Regions from separate parts of the Homo sapiens genome. Here region 1 is linked to region 2. The links come from fine-mapping of genetic effects on gene expression. Tissue or cell type: spleen. Region 2 holds a variant in brackets; the other region holds the start of a gene. All regions are shown on one strand. Distances are from middle to middle.

Region 1 (8,099 bases), 40 kb before region 2:
GTGTCAGTGTGGGGACAGCCCAGCAGACCCCAAGCCACCCACTGAGGTTGCTTCTCAGGGGAGCACCACTGGTGGGCTGTCAGCTCCTGCCTGGGCCCCGGCCTCTTGCCCCTGTCCCACCTCCCACCTGCACGGCCTCCAGCATTGCCCAAATTCACTGCCTTCACTCCCAAGTCCACAGAGGTGTCTCATCCAGGCGGGTGAACACTCGTGTGTTGGGAGGCTGGTGAAGCCTGGCATTGGGGGGCACCACCCATCTCCCTTCTTTGTCTCACTGCCTTGAAACACCCCACATCTATCACCTCTGCCCCCGAGGCTCCCCAGGTTCACCCCATGCCAGCCTCAGCCCAACAAGGCCTGTGCTTCTGACCAGCACCGCTGGGGTTCTCAGGGCATCTACCCTTTCCGCTGTAGCCCACTGTCTCTAAACATATTTCACACGTTGCTGGGGGCAGTGTGTGTGACTCACTGCTTCCCAGAGCCAGCCCAGAGCTGTTTAGTAGACATGAGGTGAGTGAATGAATGAATGAATGAATGAGTGCTGGGAGCTGTCTCAGTTAGCTCCAATCTGCCATAAGGAAGCACTGCAGGCTGGGCATGTAAACAGCAGGTGCTTATTTCTTGCAGTTCTGGAGGCTGGAAGTCCAATATCAAGGTGCTGCTGATTCCAGTCTTGGTGAGGGCTCTCTTCCTGGCTTACAGATGGCTGCCTTCTCTCTGTGTCTTCATACAGCTGTCCTTCAGTGCATGTAAGGAGAGAGAGAGAGAAGAGGGAGCTCCTAAATGTCTCTTGGTATAAGGGCACTAATCCTATGGGACCAGGGACCTTCATGTCCTCATCTGTCCCTAATTACCTCCCAGAGATCCACTTCCTAACACTATCTCATTGCGGGGCAGGGCTTCAACCTATGAATTTTGCAGGAACACGATTCTGTCCATAGCGAACACTGACACTGAACCCGCCTCCTAAAGCCTTCTCTCACCATATTCCTCATGCTGCTCAAAGATCCTCTGCAACCTTGTGCCCCTCCCAAGGGTCCCTGCACCTGTCCCAGAGAGAGGGCAGCCTGGCAATGGGCCTGGGCCCTGACGCTTGAGCATCGGGGTCTGGCCTGAAAGGGGATGGGCGTTCACTTCTAGGTTCCTGAGAGAGGCAACACTGCACCTTTAAAGGTGTCAGGAGCTCACTGCCCCAGCTGGTCATGAAACAGTCTCTTCATCAAGGGCTAAATAAAGCACGCTGACCACCAGGAATGGGGCAGGAAGCTTCTGCCCTGCAGCCTGCCTTGTCTGCACAGGGAGTGTGGGGACCATTAGGGGGAGGGTCCGATGTGCATTTTTCTGCCAGCGGGACCTTCCCCTGCCCCCAGTCCTGCCCAGGCCCGGGGGGTCACTCTGAAGGCATCTGGCTCTTACCCCAGGCATCTCCTGCCTCTGCCCCACTCCTCCACCCCCACGGGGTGCCGAGTCTCAGCCCAGGCTGGGGTGGCCCAGGCAGGACAGCAGGCTTGGTGGTGCCCGGCCCCACATACTAGTGGGTGGCACAGCGTGGATGTGGATAGAGACGCCTCCCCTACAGTCTGTCCCTGGTATCTGTGACGCAGGTGTGGGGTCCCTTTAGACTCCCCTGGGAGACAGCTGTGTCTATGAAGGGGCAGCCATCCCTGGGTCCCCTCTGCCCTCACTGAGGGCAGAGCCTAGGCTCCTTGGGGGGGGAAGCAGGGTGCCCCTCAGTGCCCACTGGAGTTGGCCAGCGGAGGCAGCAGCCCACGGCACTGAGAGGGAAGGCCCGGGCAGCCATGCCCCAGAAACTCCCTTGGTTGGGAGCAGAGCAGTGCCCAGAGCCCAGAACCCAGTTTGAGTATGGTCTTGGCTCTCAAGGGACAGGCCAGGGTGCCTCCAGGGGAAGGGGGCTGCCCAGGCAGTAGGGGTTCAAAGGTCCCCTGGGGCCCACCCAGCTGACCCAGGCCTAGGGTAATCCAGAAGGGGAGCTGCCCTCCTCCTCCCTGGGCTCAGGAGAGGCTGCAAAGGCAGCTCCTGGGACGTGGATTTCAGAATCAGGGCAAAGGACAGACATGAGCCAGATTCAGGTGCCCGCGTGGCCCCCACAGGTCTCTTCAAGCTCCAGGCCCCACTCGCTGTGACGCAGGTGGGAAGCTCTTGAGTGCCTCCCCGGTGGGAGGGGCCGCGCTCACAGACAGCACAGGGGCCCCCAGGCTCCAGCCTCAGAGCCCGGCTGCTCACCTCTGATGGACAGAAAAGGGTCCCTGTCTCAGGAAGGTAGAGGCTGCCACCTCCTGGCCCGAGGACACAGCTTTCCAGAGGAGGGGCCTGCTTCTAAGTCCAAGTCCCATCCCAGCCGGATAGCCAGGGGCAACTGCCCAGGTAAACTGAGACAGCAGCAGCAGGCAAGCCAGTGCAGAGCTGGGTGATCCACAGGTTCATGAGCGGTGGCAGGTGGAACAAGGGCACCATGGGCGGAGGGTTGGGCAGCTGCAGGTGGCATCATTGAGCCAGGGGCCTCCTGGTGGGTAAGGACATTGTAGAGTGAGCGGGCGCACCTGGGACCCAGGAATTCACAGGAAGGAGAGAGGAAAAAGGAAGTCCCTGGCGGGTAAACACATATGCATGCACACACATCCACGTCTGCACACGCATCCACGCCTGCACACGCATCCATGCCTGCACATGCATCCACGCCCAATCTCTTCCCTGGAAATAAAGCCAGGGGCCCTTAGGCCAGCTTGCAGTGGGGCCCAGCCCTTAGGACAGGCTCCTTGGTGGGGTAGGGGTGGGGGCAGCTGTCCTCCTGGGCCAGCTCCTTGGGGCTGAACCCGCTGCTCGAGGGGTCTTCCAGGCTCCCAGCGGCCGGCACCACCTCTAGAGCAGGTGGGCAGGGGTGTGTGGGGTGGGCAGGGGTTTGTGAGGGTGGGCAGGGGTGTGTGGGGTGGGCAGGGGTGTGTGGGGTGGGCAGGGGCATGTGGGGTGGGCAGGGGTGTGTGAGGTTGGGCAGGGGCGTGTGGGGTGGGCAGGGGTGTGTGAGGGTGGGCAGGGGTGTGTGGGGTGGGCAGGGGTGTGTAAGGTTGGGTAGGGGTGTGTGGGGTGGGCAGGGATGTGTGGGGTGGGCAGCGGTGTGCGGGGTGGGCAGGGGTGTGCGGGGTGGGCAGGAGGGTGTGGGGTGGGCAGCAGCCTGCACAGTGGCTTCCCCTCAACAAGCCACTTCCTCTTGCAGAGGGAATGTTGGGGTGGGAGGGTGTGGCTCAGCAAAGGGCGTGGGGGTTCCACCGGCTCCCTGCCCCCGCTGGTGGGGCACAGTGAGGGGGGCTGTGGTCAGACCTGGTCTCTGGAGGGCCAGCCGGGGGTTCCCGTCCACCTGTCAGGGGGTTCGACGCCACTTTGAGATGACAAGTGAGGCCACCTGGGCACAGCGCTGGTGTGAGAAGGAGGCCATCAGGACAGGTCAAGAACCCAGGCCCGCCCTGCTCCGAAATTCTTCAGACCTGATGAAGAGGTGTCCCAGAAGCGGGTGGTGCTCCAGGCCCGCCTCACCAGCTCCAGGGAGGTCAAGGTTGGAGAGAGACAATTCTAGGGGCGAACCAGACATAGCCAAGAGCAGCTCATCTTCCCTGGAGAGGACGGGCTGCCCACTTGCACAGCCCGGGGGCCTCCTGCCCCTAGACCTGGTACCTTCACTCTTGTTGCCACCCCTACATTCATACCTGCGCCCCAGTCTGAGCCACACCTAGGCCCCCAGCTGAAGTGACACTGTGGGTGCCAGGCATCTGAGGTCTCCACAAGCCCCCACAGACTCAGGGTGGGAATTCCTGGGGGCCAGAGCTGCAGAGGGTGCTGCCTGGGGGTGCTGGGCTGGACGGGGGTCCTGGTTGTCCCTCCTGGTTCTCCTGGTTCTCCCTCCGCAGAGGGAGGGAGGCGGTGGCCTCAGCAGTTCCTCCAGCAGCGTTCCTGAGCGGGCGGCAGCTGGGCCCTCTTCCCACAGCCACGCTGGGGTTGCCATGCCTGCAGGTCTTGGGGCCCCCTCCCCCTTGATGAGGTCCTGACCAAATGCAGGAGGAGCAATTCCAGCACCGAGGGGCGAGCAGAGCCGCCTGTTAGCACTCCTGGGAGGGCCCGGAGTGGTCCCTGAATGATGGATTCACCTGGAACATTTTCACCCTCTTCAGGCCCACCCTGCCCCAGAGGCCCACGGAAACCCTGCCTGTACTGGGGCCGCAGCGCTGCCCCCACCCATACGTAATTACACGGCTCGGTGTAATTGCAAATTCGAGGTTTACAAAGCCTCCCCCTGGAGGCCCCACGTGAGTGTGAGCGAGGCCCCAGCCCACCCCTGTGGCCCCAAGAAGGCTCTGCGACAAAATATCCATGAGTGCCGCCCACGAAGGCATTAAAACCAACGACCTTCTCAAAACTTAAGCTGTCACAGGACATTTCAAAGGGTGTTTCCTAAGAACACCTCAATAATGATGTTCCAAGGAGACCCCATCCAAATTCCTCCAAGGATTACGCCCCCAAGGCCCAGTCCACACTTGCTCACTCCCAGGACGGGGAGCTCACCTCCTCCTCCCCGGGCGCCGTCTCCTCCACATCCCACACCAGGTCCTGCCCATGACTTTCCCCCTCTCAGCGCCGTCCTCAGTGGCCACACCAAGAACGAGGCCATGTCTTCCTGGGAAGGGCCTCAGATGTCAGCAAATGCCCTGGTGTCTTGGGCTGGGCTGGGGGCACCAGGGTGAGGTGGTGGGGGGAGCCAACCTCACTGCCCCTCCCCTTCCTGCCTGCCCTTCTTCCGGGGCACCCAGCAGCTCGGTCCTAGGGCGATGTTGACAGACAGACAGAGGGGCGGATGCAGCCTACCTCCTGGGCAGTGAGCTGCGGTCTGAGGCCCCTGCCCAGCTGGAAACCACAGGGAGGGGAAGGGAGGGGAGGAGAGGAGAGGAGAGGAACCGTCATGGGGCCTTGGAGTCGAGTCAGGGTTGCCAAATGCCAGATGCTGGTCACCTGCTTCTTTATCTTGGTAACAGGCAGGTCGGGCAGGAGTGGGTGGTGGGTGGGGGTGAGCAGGGGTGAGGGGTGGCAGGGCCTCAGCACAGGGATTATCCCTCCCCTGACACACACACCAGCCCTACTGTCCCTGTCCTGCCCTTGCAGACATGTGTCCTGCCCTTGCAGACAGCCGCAGGCAGGCAGGGACCACCATGAGCAACCCCGTCTCTCCTCCTGAGGGGCAGCACAGAGCCTGGAGGAGGCCTGAGTGGGGCTGAGGCCTGGGGCGAGCTGGGGTGGAGGGGCACTGGCTGCCGGGCTCCAGGGATCTTCTCCCCTTCCTGCCCCGGAGGGTGCTGGCACAGGGGTGGGGCTCACTCCCACTCCGTAGACACAATGATCAGAGGTCCTGGGTGTCTGGGGAAGCTGGGCTGTGCGTGTATGCGTCTACCATGTGGGGGTGCCTGTGAGTGTGCTGGGGCGTCTGCAGTGAAGGCCTCCTGAGACCACTCCACGGAAACACCGGGAATCCCTGCAGCTGAGCCTGTCTCTCACGGGACCGGGAAGCTGGAGAGAGCCCCAACCCTGCCCGCTGGGGCCGAGCTCCCTGCTCCTGCAGCAGTCCCATGCCCCACACTCTGAGTCTGCCCTATCCACAGCTGCTGGGCCTCTCTGTGGCCACCATGGTGACTCTTACCTACTTCGGGGCCCACTTTGCTGTCATCCGCCGAGCGTCCCTGGAGAAGAACCCGTACCAGGCTGTGCACCAATGGGGTAAGTGAGGTCCAGGCCTGGCTGCATCGGGAGGGGCCTCGGGTGCAAGGGTGGCTGGCACGAGCCCAGCTGGACGCCTCACAGCCAGAATGGTGCCAGGCCCTAGGCAGGAGCCAGAGGTGGTCAGGGGCAGGGAGGGGCTGCCCTGGAGTCCTAGCTCCCCTGGGCAGGGCCTCGGGTCTGGGTGACAGCCAGTGTTCCTGCCTGGTTCTCGTGCCCCACAGGAGCGTGGGCACAGTGTGGGTATATGTCGGGCAGGGTCAGGAAGTGGCTCTGTGCGGTCAGGACCTGGCTCTGTGCAGTCAGGGCTCAGTCCCAGGCAGGCCTGGGACTGGCCTGGGGCTGGGCACAGCAGGTCCATGAGGGCTCCACATGGCTGATGTTCCACTCAGGACCTGGGATGTGGGTGGGGAGGGGGTGGGGGCTGCTCTAGCCAGACGCCTCCCTGCAGGGACTCAGCAGCGACTTATCCAACATCCAGAGAGCGGGAGCGAGGGCCAGAGCCTGCTGGGGCCACTCAGGGGTAAGGCTGAGGAAGGCCCCTTTAATGAGGGGATGTCAGAGCCAGATCTGCAGGGGACTCTCAGGCAGGAGCTCAGGGGGCCCAGGAAGGCTGCAGCCCGGTGGGCAGATGTAGGGAAACTGAGGCCCAGGAGGTCAGGGATACTGCCTTAGAACCCAATGCTTTTCCCCAAGTCCTAGGACCAGGGCCTCCCTGGAGGAGGACGCCTGGGGCCCAGGTCCAGGTCCGGACTGATAAGATTACAGCTCCAGTCCGGCCACTTGTCACTAGGACATGGCAGGAGGATGCCTGGGGCCCAGGTCCAGGTCCAGACTGATAAGATTACAGCTCCAGTCCGGCCACTTGTCACTAGGGCATGGCAGGGAGCATGTGGCTTCCAAGATAGCCCCACAGGCATGGAGGGCAGGGAGGAAAAGAGGGAAGGAGGGGCAGTCCCCCAGGCTGAACGAGTCCCACCTCCCTCCTCCTTCCCTCAGGGCCGTCTGATGGAGAGACAGGCCCATTCAGAGCCCCCCAGGAGTCCCTCACGGCCCCTGACTCCCAAGTTAGATTTCACACCCAGGCTGTGTGCACTCAGGACCTGTCCTGGGCACCCCTAACCCTCCTCCTCTCTCCTCCCAACCAGCCTTCTCTGCGGGGTTGAGCCTGGTGGGCCTCCTGACTCTGGGAGCCGTGCTGAGCGCTGCAGCCACCGTGAGGGAGGCCCAGGGCCTCATGGCAGGGGTGAGTTCATTGTGTTCCCAGATGCCCAGGCCCCCAGAAAAGAATTAGAAAGGAGTGAAGAGCTGGCAGGGCTGTGTGCCACCCCCACACCTGAGTGACCAGGCAGAACCAGAGGCCCCAGGGATGCTGGCCAGCCGAGACCCCCACGTCAACCCCACACCTGAGTATCTAGGCAGAAACAGAGGCCCCAGGGATGCTAGCCAGCCGAGACCCCCTACCTGGGTAGCCAAGGCCCCTCCACCAGGCCCTACCTCACCCTGTCATCTACACGCCCAACAAGGGTTCCTATAGGAGCTCTGAAAGAGAGAGACGGCCCTCCTGACCCTGGGAGCTGTTTCCAAAGTCCCTGGGAGGGTCTGGTTCTATTGCCCAGCAAGCTCTGGGAGGGCACTGGGAGCATCCCATTTCCTGTTCGGAGGAGGCCGGGCCAGGCTCAGGAAACGCCCCTTGAGCTCTCCAGCCTGGGCTCTCCGGAGCTGCACACTCTCCTTCCCAGCTGCCGGAGGTGTCTCCCCAGCCCCGAGGTCCCATAGGCCCCTCCACCCCACCCCATAGCAGTGGCCTCTTGTCACCCTCATTCCTACTCCTCCCCATGGGCTTCTGTCTTGGTCCCTGCCACTCGATGGTCATCGCAGACCCCACCTGGCGGCAGCCTCCCCACGCCTGTCCTGCCCCTGCTAGGCCCACAGCCCTCTTCTCTCACCCCAGCTGGGGCAGCTCCTCCCTGGCGCCCCGGGCTCCCACCTGTCCCTCTAGCCTCCCGTCTCCCCTTTCCAGCCATGAGGAGCTTGTGCTGGGGGCTTTGCTTCCCTGTTTAGCCTGTGAAGCTGGACCACTCTGGGGGTCCCTGAGGGCAGAGCCTCCTGGGTCCCCAGGGCTGGCAGGGTTTTCAGCTCAGCCTTCAAGTTCAGCAAATGCTTGTTTAATGACCCTGGTTTATAAATGTCTCCAAGAATAGGAATAGAGTCACCTCCTGGAGCTGCTGCCGGGCCAACCAGCCCTGGGTGGGCCCATGGTGGGCAGAGGAGGACCCAGCAGCTCCAGCACTAGCCAGGATTCCTGCTCCGGGGCACACGAG
Region 2 (8,099 bases):
TCAGAGAGAGAGAGAGACAAAGAGGGAGTCAAAGAGAGAGAAAGAGAGAGACAGAGAGTCAGAGAGAGAGAAAGAGAGAGACAGAGACAAAGAGGGAGTTAGAGAGAGAAAAAGAGAGACAGAGAGTAAGAGAGAGAGAGTCAGAGAGAGAGAAAGAGAAGTAGTAAAGAGAAAACAGTGTACCCTATTCCTTTAAAAGCCAGGGTAAATTTAAAACCTATAATTGATCATTGAAGATCTTCTCTGTGACCCTAGAACACTCCAATACTGCCTGTAAAGAAGCAAGACGAGTCACACCAGTGACTGCAAGACCCTAGAGCTATTAACCAGTTAGTCCAAACTACCCACCCTGTTGTTACAGTAATAGATGTAAAAGATGCCTTCTGGGCTTGTCCATTTGCAGAGGACAGCCAGGACCTATATGCCTTTGAGTGAGAAGACCCTCACTCCGGTGGAAAATGGTAATACCAATAGACGGTCTTACCCCAAGGGTTTACGGAGTCTCCAAATTTATTTGGTCAAATATTCAAATAAGTCATTTAATTAGCAAAGGTAAACAGAAAATTGAGCTTGAATGGATTGAAGGCATCACATTCTTGCCTCTGCTGGAGACTAAATAAGAGCTTAGAAAATTTTGGGATTAGTTGTATGGATACCGTCGTCTATGGGTAGACTCATGCCCTAAAAACAAAACTCTTACACAAAAAGCTCACACGAGACAGACCAAACCCCCTCATGTGGCAATTACCAGAAATCCAACAGGTGGGAAGGTTAAAACATCTATTAGTAACTGCCCCTGTCCTAGCTTTACTCTCCTTAAGCAGCCATTCCACCTTGTTGGTGGTGTAAACAACGGCGTAGCCCAAAAACACTGAGGCCACTGACAACCCATAGCCTTCCTAATCAAAAATCCTTAACCCAGTAACCCGCGGATGGTCCAAATGCATTCAATCTGTAGCAGCAACTTCTTTGCTGACAGAAGAAAGTAGAAAAATAACTTTGAGAAGAAACCTCATTGTGAGCACACCTCACCAGGTCAGAACTATCCTAAGTCAAAAAAAAAAAAAAAAAAAGAAAAGCAAAAAGGTAGCTTACTAACTCAAAAAATTTAAAATATGAAGCGATTCTGTCAGAAAAAGATGATTTAACATTAACCACTGATCATTCCCTTAACCCAGCAGGTTTGCTAACAGGGGATCTAACTCTTAATGAATTACCATACAAAGGTCCAACCAGACCTAGAAGGAACTCCCTTCAAGACAGGACAATAGATGGTTCCTCCCAGGTGAATGAGGGAAAAAGCCACAATGGGTATTCATTAAGTAATGGGGAAATAGGAGTAGAGTTAGGAAAATTGCCTAGGAGTTGGGGAGTTGTTTGCACTGAGCCAAGCCTTAAGATACTGACAGAATCAGGAAGGAGTCATTGTGAAAAGTGAAGTAGAGTTTCCTCCTCAAAAGACTTTCCTCCCCATCTAATCAGGAATAAATAGTAACTTCTCTTAGTAGCAAAATGTATTCAAAGACCAGCGCTAACATTCTTAAATATCTGCTAGACGTAATAAAGAAATCAATGTACTTTATGTCCTTAGCTCCCACAATTTAGTCTAAATGTTTGCTCTGGCATGCTTATACTGGTCCAGGCAAGCATTAGGTCCTATCCTGTTCCTCTTCCTTGTTTGTGTCTCACATGTCCGTGTGAAAAGACCACCAAACAGGCTTTGTGTGAGCAACAAGGCTGTGTATTTCACCTGGGTGCAGGCGGGCTGAGTCCGAAAAGAGAGTCAGCAAAGGGTGGTGGATTATCATTAGTTCCTACAGGTTTTGGGGTAGGCGGTTGGGTTAGGAGCAATGTTTTGCCAGCAGGGGGTGGATCTCGCAGAGTACATTCTCAAGGGTGGGGAGAATTACAACGAACCTTCTTAAGGGTTGGGGAGATTACAGAGTACATTGATCAGTTAGGGTGGGGCAGAAACAGATCACAATGGTGGAATGTCATCAGTTAAGGCTATTTTCACTTCTTTTGTGGATCTTTGGTTGCTTCGGGCCATCTGGATGTATACGTGCAGGTCACAGGGGATATGATGGTTTAGCTTGGGCCCAGAGGCCTGACAGTTTGAAGGTGTTTTTACCTTTCTCAGCATTCCACGAGTTACTTCTTCCTTTGTTCTCCTCTGCCTTTGCCTCTTTTAAAAAGTTCTAAGTTGCTAGCCAGTCGGGACAAATGCAGAATGTCAGGCCTCTGAGCCCAAGCTAAGCCATCGCATCCCCTGTGACTTGCACGTATATACGCCCAGATGGCCTGAAGTAACTGAAGAATCACAAAAGAAGTGAATATGCCCTGCCCCACCTTACCTGATGACATTCCACCACAAAAGAAGTGTAAATGGCCGGTCCTTGCCTTAAGTGATGACATTACCTTGTGAAATCCCTTCTCCTGGCTCATCCTGGCTCAAAAATCTCCCCCACTGAGCACCTTGCGACCCCCCACTCTGCTCGCCAGAGAACAACTCCACTTTGACTGTAATTTTCCTTTATCTACCCAAATCCTATAAAACGGCCCCACCCTTATCTCCCTTCGCTGACTGTCTTTTCGGACTCAGCCCGCCTGCACCCAGGTGAAATAAACAGCCGCGTTGCTCACACAAAGCCTGTTTGGTGGTCTCTTCACACGGACGCGCGTGAAACAGAATGTGAGGTCCCGTTCCAGCCAATGGAAACCAGACACAGCAGTAGGGTGGACGCGTCAGGTTATAAATGACCCTGTCTCCTTTGCTCAGTGTACTCTCGTGGCAAAACTGCTGCCGAGTGTACCCTTTCTACAGAAAGTATAAAAATGACCTTGCGTAGGAAATTAAATTTATGTTCAAGTGCCATTTCTTTATGGCACCGGGGAGCAAGCATTTCAAACATCATTTGTACCAATTCTAAGTTAAATTTGGACTAAACAAGGTCTTATTAATAGCAAAGGATAATTGAAATCCCAAACTTACAAGGTTTTCAACAAAAGTAAAGTTTGCTAAAAGTTAACAGTATAACATGTATTATCCTAACTTCTAATGTTGTGACCTTAGGCTGTCTAGTCCACAGACATAAAGGAAGTTCGCTTTGGAAAAGAATGGTTATCATCTTTGAGAGAAAAAAAATTGTTTCGAAGGTTTAAGCAAGTTTTGAAATATTCATTGTAAAGGAAACATATTGGCTAAAGTTAAAGGGGTATCTTCCAGTTTTTCTGTGAACTGGACATTAAAATAAAAGCCCAGTGGGTTTTTCTTAAAGCGCTAACCTGCTCTTTAACAAAAATTACGAAAGGTTAAAAATTATAAAAGTTTAAAAAAAGAGTCTGGAAATCTCACCTTGTGGTCAGACCTTAAAATTGGATACATATGTCTACAAGGTTTTATTAAAATGAAGTTTAACACGAATAACACACTAATGTAAAGGTGAAATTTAGCTGATCTGGTATAAAATCACACAGGAAGCACTGTCAAATATAAAATGGTGTTTGGCTTTCTTTGGTCTAAAAACTAATAAAAATAGGTACTAAAGGAAATTTCTCAGCAAGAAGGCACTAAGGACTATAAAATCCACTGCTGATGTCCCCACCTTTAAAACAAAAGATCAATTTTTAGAAATGATATACTTGGTTTATCCTCCACCCTTAAAACAAAAGGTCTTCTAGCACAGGCCCTGCCCTGAGAGTTTCCAGTACATCAGCACCAGCCTGGGGATCCCGTTCTCATCAAAGGGTGGAAAGAAGGGAAACTGGAGCCAGCCTGGGAAGGACCCTGCCTTGTGCTGCTGACTACCGAGATTGCTATTCGTACAACGGAAAGGGGGTGGACACGTCCCACCAGAGTCAAGCAAGCACCATTATCAACAGAATCATGGGCCATTGTTTCTGGATCAAGCCCTACCAAATTAAAGCTAAGGAAAGCTGAGTCTATCTCTTTCCTTTCCTTTCCTAACCCAGTGCCTATATCCATGACTATTCCTACCACTAGCAACTCTAACCCCACTTTAGAGAGTTTCTGTGGTTTGGGAGCAGAGGTCACTGGAAGGGATCCTATAGGCTTCAAGGTGCGCTTTGTTCTCCCTCCTCCACCTCCTACGACTGCCCCTTTCCCAAACCTACAACATCAAACTATGCCTCGCCTCATGCCAAATGACACAAGCAAGTTCTTAGAAGTAGAAATAGGAGACCCAAGGCAAACCCTAGCCATTGAAAGAGGGTATAAAGACATAAATGCCGGTTAAAACGGATTAAATATCCCGTTCGCACTTTAAGCAAAAGTGACCATTAAGCTTGTGGGCGCGGTAGGCCAGAGGCTCAGGATGCCTCCTTTCCACTGGGACGGTCCTCAAATCAAGCGGACATGGAGTGCGTGGTAGCTCTTTTCGAAGATTCCACCACCTGGAATAACGAATTGTGCCAAGCTCTTTCTCTGCTATTTCCTGAAGTTCAGTGCCCTGTGGGTCAGCCCCCGAGGGCCATCCAGCCTTCATCTTCCAAAACCAATTTTACCTCGTGTCTCCAACAACGAGGGG[A/G]AAAAACTTGGCATTCCTTGGAGACTTAAAAGGTTGCAGTAAAGTCAGGCACCTCCAAAAGCTGACCCATCGGTCTGCCCTTATTCATCCCTGAGCGGATGTATGGTGGTATTATGGAGGACCTTTACTGGACACTCTGCCAAATAATGAGAGCAGTACTGATGCTGTAGTTCAGTTGGCTATCCCTTTTACTCTGGCATTTCATCAACCAGAAAAAGAAAAAAAAATGTAGCCTCAATTCTTACCTCTTTAACAACGCTAATAAGTATACTCTTTCTTCGTAGGTGTTATGTCGTACCATACATCCAGGAGTTCATCAAAACAACTAAGCCAAGACATGCTAAGAAAGTTTGAAGAGGAAAACTATACAGTAAAAGAGGAGGGAATTGTAGGAAGTAAAAAGTTTCTGCTTCAAAGTTCCCCTTCTTGTTAAAGAATAAATCATAAGTCTTAGAAATAATAGATTCTTTTAAAGACTAATTTTCTTCAAGCCTCCTTGCTTTGTGCTAATAGCTCTTTGTTAAGCCCTATCCTATGTAACTGTTGGACATGCTCACAGACACATTCCAGCTCACAGCCTATGCCCCTTCCTTAATTGGAAATGTTATTGCTTCCTGAAACCTTTTGTAAGCAACTTCTTTGTTCTTCCTTGCACTTACCTATTTAGGAAAGTTTCAAATCGGGTATCAGTTTAAGATAGTGAGGTCCCACTCCAGCCAATGGATGCAGGACACAGCAGTAAGGACAACCCAAATGCGTAAGGGATAAATACATCTGCTTTTCCTTTGTTCAGGTGTGCTCTCACCATTGTTCCATCTGCAGTTGAGCACCCTTTCTGCAGAAAGTAAAGATGGCCTTGCTGAGAGATCTTTTGTCTCTGTGCTGACTCTTCTTCGCAGCACCGATTATCTATTTCTAACAATTTTGGTATTTCTAACAGGCCCACACACACTGTGTGGGCCAAGCTGCTTCACTCAGTCCACTGATCAAATGCTCATCTCATCCTCACAGACACACCCAGGATACTGCTTGACCAAATATCTGGACAACCCATGGCCCAGTCAAGTCGACAGACCAAATGAACTGTCACAGACAGCTTCTGTCCTTGGAACGGGGTGGGATTCCACGGACTCTCTCCCTTCACAGTGGAGATGCTCAGTCAGCAAGCTGCCAGAAGTTCAGAGCTGGGGAAGATATAAAGAGGACTGGGCATGGAAGCTGCAGGAACTAGTCAGGAACTGGGAGTACCTAGGAGTCAGCTCCTGAGTGTGCAGGATCATGGTGAAATAGAAAGTTAGAGAAGGAAGAGTGTGTCAATATCAGAGCATTGTCTTATAGCACAGGACTTAACCCTCTCCTAAGGTTCCAGGGAGACAGTGCCAAATCATCACTTGAGTGGTGCTTAGAAGCTTCAGGGCAAAAGAGCCAACCCTAAGTACATTTGTCTACTGGGGCTGCCATCACAAAGCACCGCAGACAGGGTGGCTTATACAACAGACTCATTGTCTCACAATCCTGGCGGCTGGAGTCCAAGATCAAGGTTTTGCAAGGCTAGCTCCTCCTGAGGCCTCTCTTGGCTTGTAGATGACCGGGGCCTTCTCTCTGTGTCCTCACAGGGTCTTCCCTCAGTGCGTGTCCGTGTCCTCACCTCCTCTTGTAAGACTCCAGTCCTATGAGATTAGGACCCACTGTCATGAACTCATTTACTGTTGATTACCTTTGTTTTATGTTTTTTGTTTTTTTGAGACAGGGTCAGTCTCTGTCACCCAGGCTGGAGTGCAGTGGTGCAATCATGGCTCACTGCAGCCTCAAACTCCTGGGCTCAAGGAATCCTCCCACCTCAATCTCCCAAGTAGCTGGGACTACAGATGCATACCACTGTGCCTGGGTGTATTAGTCTGTTATTGCACAGCTATAAAGAAATACCTGAGAGTGGGTAACTTATAAAGAAAGGAGGTTTAATTGGCTCACGGTTCATAGCTGCTTCTGGGGAGGCCTCAGGAAAGTTTCAGTCATGGTGGAAGGTGAAGGGGAAGCAGACACGTCTTACACGGCCAGACAGTTCCTCCTACACTGGCTGACACTCTCTCCTGCCACCTTGTGAAGAAGGTGCCTGCTTCCTTTTCTGCCATGACTGTAAGTTTCCTGAGGCCTCCCCAGCCATGTGGGACTGTGAGTCAATTAAACCTCCTTTGTTTATAAATTGCCCAGTCTCCGGTAGTATCTTTATAACAGTGTGAGGATGAGCTAATACACACAGGAAGCAGCAATGCCATCAAAGAGCCAGGGGCCTTGACTGGCAGAACTAGTGAGACCATCACCAAAACATGGCATTCCTTGGGCAAGGCAGGTGCGCAGCCAGCAAGGTATTGCTTAATCTACATGATCAAAAGACATCAGGATGGTTGTTCAGGAGGCTGAGAACAGCCATCCTATTATGGCTGAGTTGTGTCCCCTCAAAATTTATATACTGAAGTCTTAACCCCCCAGGACCTCAGTGTGTAAGTATTTGGAGAAAGGGCCTTTAAAGATGTAGTTAAATTAAAATGAAGACATTAGGGTGGGCCCTAATCCAATCTGACTGGTGTCCTTGTAAGAAGAGGAGATGAGGACACATGCAGAGGCATGACCACATGAGGACACAGGGAGAAGGTGGCCATCTGCAAATCAAGGAGTGAGGCCTCGGGAGGAACCAGCACTACCAACACCTTGATCTCGGACTTCCAGTCTCCAGAACCATGAGATGATGAAAGTCTGTGTTTAAGCTGCCCAGTCTGTGATATTGTTTTGCAACCCTAATAGATGAATACATACCCCAATGAAAAAGCATGATCTCTTGCCCAGTTTCTGCACCTGAGACAGTTTTCAAACCCAAACCCCACTGATTGAAGGAGGGATTAGGTCCCAGGAGGACGGACCCTGCAGTACCATAGCAGGCTCCCCCAGTCCTTCCCCACCCCACCACTAAAGGTGTATTTCAGTAACTGTGCACTAGGAAAAGGGCAATGCCCAGGGCTGGGGGACTCCGGGACCAAGTTGACACTGAGAGCTGGAGTCAAGGTACCATCATGGGCCCACTAGAGTAGGGCGTATGGAGGCCAGCAAAGTGCAATCCTGGTCCACCTCTAGCTCACACTGAGTCATCCCTTTGCATTCCCAGAATGCTGCATATTCCCCCAGACCCTAAAAGTACACTCAGACAATCTTGGTAGTTGGCAGAATCCTCACGTAGGCTCATTGTCCTGTAGGGTAAAAACTATCATAGTGTTACCAAGTAGAAACTTCTGAAACTGCCCACCACCTTAGCCAAGGCAATACACCAAAAAGAAAATCTCATTGGTGGGGAATGGCAGAGATGTGGGCCCCTTTGGAAGACTTGAAGGTTGCAGGTGAGGCGATTCCCATCATCTCCCCCATTTTCCAGAGAATGCTAACAGACTACTGTCAACTTGTGATGGGAAATTTTATGCGTCCACTTCACTGGGCCATGGTGCCCAGATGTTTGGTTAAACATTATTCTGGGTGTGTCTGCAAGGTGTTTCTGGATATGCT

What was found. PIP is the estimated chance that this variant, and not a neighbour inherited with it, causes the effect.
Region 1: C11orf21 starts here. The variant in region 2 is fine-mapped to the expression of C11orf21 in spleen (GTEx, PIP 0.91).

The regions. Positions count from the first base shown.
Region 1 is chr11:2,297,184-2,305,282 of GRCh38, forward strand. It overlaps C11orf21 (chromosome 11 open reading frame 21), which reads right to left and starts at 4,735. Exons shown (of 4, transcript NM_001329958.2): 1 at 4,573-4,735; 2 at 3,337-3,430; 3 at 2,245-2,524; 4 at 1-738. The coding sequence starts at 4,625. The coding sequence ends at 2,273. TSPAN32 (tetraspanin 32) reads left to right here and starts at 4,830. Exons shown (of 10, transcript NM_139022.3): 1 at 4,830-5,032; 2 at 5,661-5,775; 3 at 6,924-7,021. The coding sequence starts at 4,967. RefSeq lists a silencer at 2,076-2,370.
Region 2 is chr11:2,337,088-2,345,186 of GRCh38, forward strand. The region is part of intron 1 of CD81-AS1 (CD81 antisense RNA 1); the gene reads right to left. It overlaps LOC124902611 (a long non-coding RNA gene), which reads left to right. Exons shown (of 2, transcript XR_007062551.1): 2 at 4,832-5,007. Among named protein-coding and RNA genes, the nearest start is that of CD81, 36 kb to the right of the region's middle. RefSeq lists enhancers at 1,368-2,285, 2,286-3,201. The variant A/G (reference allele first, on the strand shown) is at 4,548.